2 linked regions of the Homo sapiens genome follow. The protein of the gene in region 2 purifies or fractionates together with the protein of the main gene of each other region. This does not show direct contact. Each region holds a gene or a part of one and is shown on either strand. Other genes may lie near its edges.

Evidence for each region. The genes of interacting proteins can lie anywhere in the genome.
Region 1: the proteins of NDUFAF2 (region 2) and SUGP2 fractionate together in Homo sapiens (co-fractionation; one large-scale study listed by BioGRID). This does not show direct contact.

Annotation. Positions count from the first base shown.
Region 1 is NC_000019.10:19,023,518-19,027,017, forward strand, and holds part of SUGP2 (SURP and G-patch domain-containing protein 2), read right to left. Parts: intron 2,710-3,500; coding exon 1,102-2,709; intron 1-1,101. UniProt on the Homo sapiens protein: May play a role in mRNA splicing.
Region 2 is NC_000005.10:61,147,705-61,151,204, reverse strand, and holds part of NDUFAF2 (NADH dehydrogenase [ubiquinone] 1 alpha subcomplex assembly factor 2), read right to left. Parts: intron 1-3,500. UniProt on the Homo sapiens protein: Acts as a molecular chaperone for mitochondrial complex I assembly. Complex I functions in the transfer of electrons from NADH to the respiratory chain. The immediate electron acceptor for the enzyme is believed to be ubiquinone.

The DNA of each region.
Region 1 (3,500 bases), on a different chromosome or scaffold from region 2:
TCTTCCCTCAGGAGCCTGGGGATTCCTCAGAGACAGTGCTCTGTGTCTTTTCTCCCTTCTAGTAATACCTTGTGGGGACATGTTGGAACAAGGGTTCCAGGCCAGGTGCAGTGACTCACACCTATAATCCCAGCACTTTGGGAGGCTGAGGCAGGTAGATCACTTGAGCTCAGGAGTTCGAGACCAGTCTGGGCAACATGATTCTCTACAAAAAAATACAAAAAAAGTTAGCCAGGCATGGTGGTACATGCCTATAGTCCCAGCTACTCAGGAGGCTGAGGCGGAAGGATCACTTGAGCCTAGGAGGTCGGGGCTGCAGTGAGCCATGGTCATGCCACTGCACTCCAGCCTGGGTGACAGAGCACGACCCTGTCTCAAAAAAACAAAAACAAGGAAAGAAAGTCAACCCTTCTTTTTTTCAAAGGTTAAAAAGAAAAAAAAAGGAACAAGCGTTCTTAACCTTGGCTGCAGAAAGGTACGAATCCCCCGGATGATATAGGTAAAATTGTGCGTGAATAGATGAGCATTTTTTCTGGCAATGGCCACAGCTTTCTACCAAATTCCCAGAGAGGTATTTGACCTAAAAATGTCTAAAAATTTTTATTTTTCTGAGACAGAGTCTTGCTCTGTCACCCAGGTTGGAGTGCAGTGGGGTGATCTCAGCTCACTGAAACCTCCGCCTCCCAGGTCCAAGTGGATTCTCCTAACTCAGCCTCCCGAGTAGCTGGGATTTCAGGTGCGTGCCACCACACCCGGCTAGTTTTTGTATTTTTAGTAGAGATGGGGTTTCACCATGTTGGCCAGGCTGGTCTCAAACTCTTGGTCTTAAGTGATCTGCCGCCTCAGCCTCCCAAAGTGCTGGGATTACAGGCATGTGCCACCACACCCGGCTGTCTAAAGACTTCTATGGTAAACAGCAGATTCCTAATACACATTCACAGAATGAATGGCAGACATATATTGGCCAATGTGCGTTTTCTACTAAAATCCTGATATGTTTCCAATTGGCTAAAGAACTTCTGTGTAAAAAAATCTCGAATAAAAGACATTACCAAAGAAACACGAAAAACAACAAATAGAAACTTTGGCTGATTTCCTTACCATCACTCAGACTACTTGGAGCCTTGGCCTGAATTTCAGGTTTCGTAGGAGGAATCATTTTCTCCTCCTCTCGCATCGGCTCTGGTTCGGCTTTCTTAACCTGGAGGGGACATCCGCTGCTGACTAGCCAGGCCTTCAGGTGGTCTATGTACTCTCGCCCAAACAAAGTGGAGTCTTCGAAGTTTGGAAACGCAGCAGGTGAGGGAGCTATATCTTGCAGGCCGACAGCTTCTAAGATTTTCTCCTGCCGGAAAGAAGAGGCCAAGGAAAATGTCTGTCCCAAAAGGGCCAAAGACTTCCGGCAGAGAGAGTTGGTGGTTTCTAGGGCAAGAGCCAAGTCCAGGGGGTTACTGAGGGTCTTCATCTTGACACTTAGCTCGTAGGCATTGCAGGCCATAAGCAAAGGTGTGACACTCTTCAGAAGCCGGTCTTGAAGTCTCATTATGTACTTGTCAAAAGGCTTTATGATTTCAAAAAAGCAATTTTTGGTCTTCACAGCACCTTTGTCTAAAAGCATGTTTAAAAACTCATTATCAACTCTGGGTGTTTTCAAAGCAGAGTGCTTTAAAAATTTGATAGTAAAAAAGCAAAAATCTCTGTGCTCTGGTTTTAAGGAACATTTGAATGAGGCAAGCATTTTAGCACAGGTTTCTGTTTCAAGTTCAAAGAGAGTCTGGAAAAGTTGGGAAAATTTAATATCATCTTTTATGGTGTGGAATCCTGCCCATTTGATTATTTCTATCCCAAATCTTGAAAAAACATCAGACTTATCTATGATGTCAAAGCTCATCTTTCTTCTGGGGAGCCGAAGATTCTTCAGATCCAGCCCCAGAGGGATCTTCTGAATGGGGAACTGGATATCTTCTGTCCCTGGGTTTGTCCCCAGGGTCACATCAGGACTTGGAGTGTTTTTCTGGATTTGGTTAGTGCCCTGAGTTTTGGGAGTAATACGATTCACGGTGGGTATTTTTTTTGTGCTCACATTTCTCAATGTGACAAGTTTCCCAACACCCCCCTTAGCTGTGAGCAGGCCCTGAGTCTCCCCCTTTCCTAGGAGGGAACCTTCCTGGTCAACGATGTTTAGAGCTCGACCTCTGGCCTGGACTTGACTGCCGCCCCTAAGCACAGAGTCAGCCTCCCCAGGATGGTCCACGTCATAATCCCGACTCTCCTTCTCCAAACACTCTTTCTCAATCAGCCTGGAAGATCCAAAGTCCCCCAAAACTGCAGAGGGACCAAAACTATACTCCTGTGACCAAGAGGACTCTTGAGAAACTGGATGGCCAAAGTCTTGTTCCCAAGAACCACGGAGCGCAAATTTCCAGTCCTGAGAACGGAAATGCCCCAATTTCCGGTGGCCAATGACCTGGTCCCGAGAATCAGAGTGAGAAAATTCCAGATCCCGGCCACATTCTTTGCGAAAGTAGCTGTCATCACTGATGGAAGGGTTGCTTGATCTGAAGGAAGGCCCTGGAAATACGTCACTTCTCAGGCCTTCTCTTCCGGCATCTCTAGAGTGAGCTACAGATCCACTGAGGGAGTATCTGCCATCGCTGTGGACGTCATCATACATCTCTGCTCTGGATCTTGGGACTGCCCTTAAGAGATCTGAAATAAACCATCCAAAAAAAAAAAAGAAGAAGCCAAAAGATACTTTAGACCAGAGAATGCAAACAGTGCAAACAAACAGTCCACGGATCACCAGGCAGCAAAACTGCTTTATACACCTCAGTGCTTTTTGCCAATCTGTATTTGCTGCCAACATTTAAAATGCGTGTGGTGTCACTTAAAAATCTGGATCGACTACTTACTAAAACAGAAGACCTATAAGCACCAAGCCTGAGTTTGCCCTGATGACGTCAACCCAGGCTGGGCAGTAGCAGCCTGACGGGCAAGACACAGACTCTCTAAGTTGGCACCAACAGCCCTCGCTCATTCAGATCCCCCTACTCTCTAGCCATCTGGGTTGACAATCCCTCTTTTAGTCTGAGGAAAGGGTGTTTGGTCCCCAAATAACCTGGATATTTTTACTGCAACTGGAGCACTTCTGTGTTTCTACTTCTATCTCAGAACAGACAGGTTTTATTGAGGCTACCTGCCTTCACTGCCTCTTAGAAGGAAGTCTCAGCCCACAGTGCCACCGTGAGGCTAGAGGAACCATAGCTAACACCACACCCACCACAGCTGACCCAAAGCTGGCTGAACCCATCCCTCGGAAAGGTCGGCCAGGCCAATCAACCCTCTCTCTGGAGCTGAAAAACCACAGACCGAGGCAGGCAGGAGGGAAGGCAGAAGCTTAACAAGATACATCAAGAGAGGCCATGATGGAAACTGAACAGTGCCCAATTCTGTCCTTCTCCATGTAGAAAAGGGGAAATGGGCCAGGCACAGTGGCTCAA
Region 2 (3,500 bases):
CCTTTAAAAAGGTAAGCTCTGATATTAAAGTAACATTTAAAATAATAGTTTGTACTTAAAGGGGGAAAAGTTTTTGTGGTTTTAGTGTTAAGACTTAGTTTTAGATGTGAAGAAGGGCCCATCTAATGAAACTTCTCCCTCAAAGCAAATATGTGCAGGAAAGAACAATATTTATAAATATTCTTGTAATTTTCACAACACATAGCAATTCCCCATGAGTAGTTTAATCACCACAGTAAGCGAGTTCTGTATGGTTGCTCCAAGTGAGGGTGAGAGTAGAGAAATCAGGTTTTCTTCTTCCTATACCCTCTAGAATTCTTATATAAGGTGATGATGTATCACAAAGGAAATTCCTCAATATCATACTGGAAATAGTGGAAGTAGACAAAAATTCAAGTCCCTGTGTCTTAATGGAAGTTCGTTCTTTGGAGCGGAATGAAAAGTTCAGGACCAGGTTAAACTTCCACTAGTAACCGACCTCAAGCAGCAAGAGGATACTCAGAAATTGGTATGGAGCTTGCTTGGATTTTGTATAATAGATCAGTCATGTCACCTGAAGCTGTGCCCCTGCCTACTTTATTTATGTCACCTCTATAGTTGCAGTCTTACAGTTGGTACATGCATATGCTTTTTGATGAAAAGAAAATGGAGGGCAAAGATCTGTTCTTGTTTCTCCTGCCTTCACATAATTTCTCTTTATTCAACATTACTCTTCTAAGACTTTCTTATAATAGCTATTGAGGCAAAAGAAAAGCCAATCTGAATATATTAATTATTTTTATATATGAAGATGGTTAAAGATTTCAGAGTTAAAAAATATGGAGACTATAGTTTTTCCTAAAAAAGAATTTCCTTTTGTTTTTCTGAAAAAACAAAACTGGTACCAAAAACATAACTGGTACCAGGCAAAATTAAACAGAACATAAATCATTTATGAAAGGAAATACGGTCTTGTAAATATTTGGAATTGAAGGGCCAGGTTCTGTGGCTCATGCCTGTAATCCTAGCACTTTGGGAGGCCGAGGCGGGCAGATCACTTGAGGCCAAGAGTTCAACACCAGCCTGGCCAACATGGGAAAACCCTGTCTCTACTAAAAATACAAAAATTAGCTGTGCATTGTGGCACATGCCTGTAGTCCCAGCTACTCGGGAGGCTGAGAGGCAGGAGAATCACTTGAACCTGGGAGGTGGAGGTTGCAGTGAGCTGAGATTGTACCACGGCACTCCAACCTAGGTGACAGAGCAAGACTCCATCTCAAATAAAACAAAACAAAAAAACCCCCAAACAACAACAATGAAAATATTTGGAATTGATAAGAAAGTAGTTAGGTGGAGAAAACAGGATAGGAATTGTAGACCTTAAGGACTTTTAAGAAAGTCTATTTGCAAATACAAACTACCAAAAAGCAAGTATTTTTCCTTCCAATTCCTTGGAACAATATCACCCTATATCTCCATACGTTTATCAAATAACAGTATGTTTCAGTGTTTGTGTAAGGATAAAGCAGGAACGGGCATCTTTCTTCACATAAATGTTTGTATTTTAAAAACAAATATTCATCATTTTACTTATTTATCTTGTTGCCAATAAATATTTTTCTTTAACATTTAAAAAAAAGATGGCTGAATGTTATTTTATCACTAGTATTGTACCATGATTTACTTAACAACTACCTCTACTGTTGCTTCCAATATTTCACTTCTTCATTAAAAAAAATAACACTGTGGTGACAATCCACATGGGTAATTCTTTGACTCAGACAGGGTTCCAATCCCAAATCTACCATTTGCTAGCCGTGTGACACCAAGAAAGCTACTTAACTTTTTTAGTCTCAGTTTATCTGAAAATGGGGCTTATACTCATAACAGTATTATGTTTCCTAAGATAGTTATGTATTACAAGGTGAGTAAGCTTTTATAAAACAATGCCAAATGGGCCAGTGTGGTGGCTCACGACTGTAATCCCAGCGCTCTGGGAGGTCAAAGCGGGCAGATCACTTGAGGTCAGGAGTTTGATACCAGCCTGGCCAACATGGCAAAACCCTGTCTCTACTAAAAATACACAAATTAGCCAGGTGTGGTGGTGTACTCCTGTAATCCCAGCTACTCTGGAGGCTGAGGCATGAGAATCGCTTGAACCTGGGAGGTGGAGGTTGCAGTGAGCTGAGATCACGCCACTGCACTCCAGCCTGGGTGACAGAGCAAGACTCTGTCTCAAAAAATAAATGAATAAACCAACAATACCAAATGGAAGTATCTTCCTTTTGTTCCCCTTAAGTAACCTCTAGAGTTCCCTTAAAGATTGAAAAGTTTATGCAGATTACAGATTTTTCCATATTCTAATGTAAGCCAAACATTATTGATTTAAAAATTGAATCTTGTTTATATGTGACTATGTAAGTATAAATATTTATACCTCAAATTACTCATATGTATACTCTTCACATTGTTATTCACTGAATGTTTCTCAATAGTGGCATAGAATTTGGGCTCTGAAGCCAGACCACTGAATACAAATCCCAGTTTTACCATTTACCAGCTGTGTGACTCTATGAATATTATTTAACTTCCCTGTGTCTCACTTTCATGTTGTGTGAAATGGAGATAATGTTGTCTTCTTCAATGGGCTGTTGTAAAGGTTGGGAAAGAACTGGCTACTGGGCAGTGATAGTACAACAGAAGGTACAAATATATCTTAAAATAGTGATTTCATTCTATTAAAAAATAAACATAGCAAACTTGTACACATCTCTCTCTGAAATGGGTAGAGATGTTAGTAAGAGGTAATCTACTAGTTTCAGACAAAAGATGGAATAACTGGTACCAGGCTAGTCCTCCTGCCATGGCACCACTAGAAAACTGGACAAAAATACATTTTTCAGATACTGGACAATAGGCAGCACAGTAGTGTGATCCCTGAAGGGCATCAATGAGTAACAAATTAGATAAACCCTATATCATCCCAGCTTTCTGGCTGGAGACACATTACTGGTTGCTACACAGGGTGGGGGAACCCAACCAGAGGATGGTGGTTTATGGAGAGATAGAGATGGTTGTTTAGGGAGCCTGAGAAAGCTGGAATATGCTGGGATATGTTAGGCGGAGTACCAGAATACACAGAGTAAGTTTTAGAAATCTGCATAGTAACCCACTTGAGTGTTCAGCTGAATATTAAGCTGTCCATGTGCGCGGTGAAACTCCATAAAGCAGGAAGGACAACTTCTCACTAAAGAATACTGGGGAACTATAGGCTGAAAATTGCTGGAGCTTGCACTGGACTAGGAAAAAGTCAAGTTCTAACCAGCCAGGGAGAGCTCGTTGAACACCTGAGACATTGTAAAGATCCCGGAAGGGTCACTCCTTAGGTGTAGGACTAAACTGGCACGAGAGTACAGCTTATTGGAGACCTATGCTGTACAATACAGTAGGCACTAGCCACATACCATTTAAATTAAATAAAAAATTCAGTTACTGAATTATACTAGCCACATTTCAAGTAT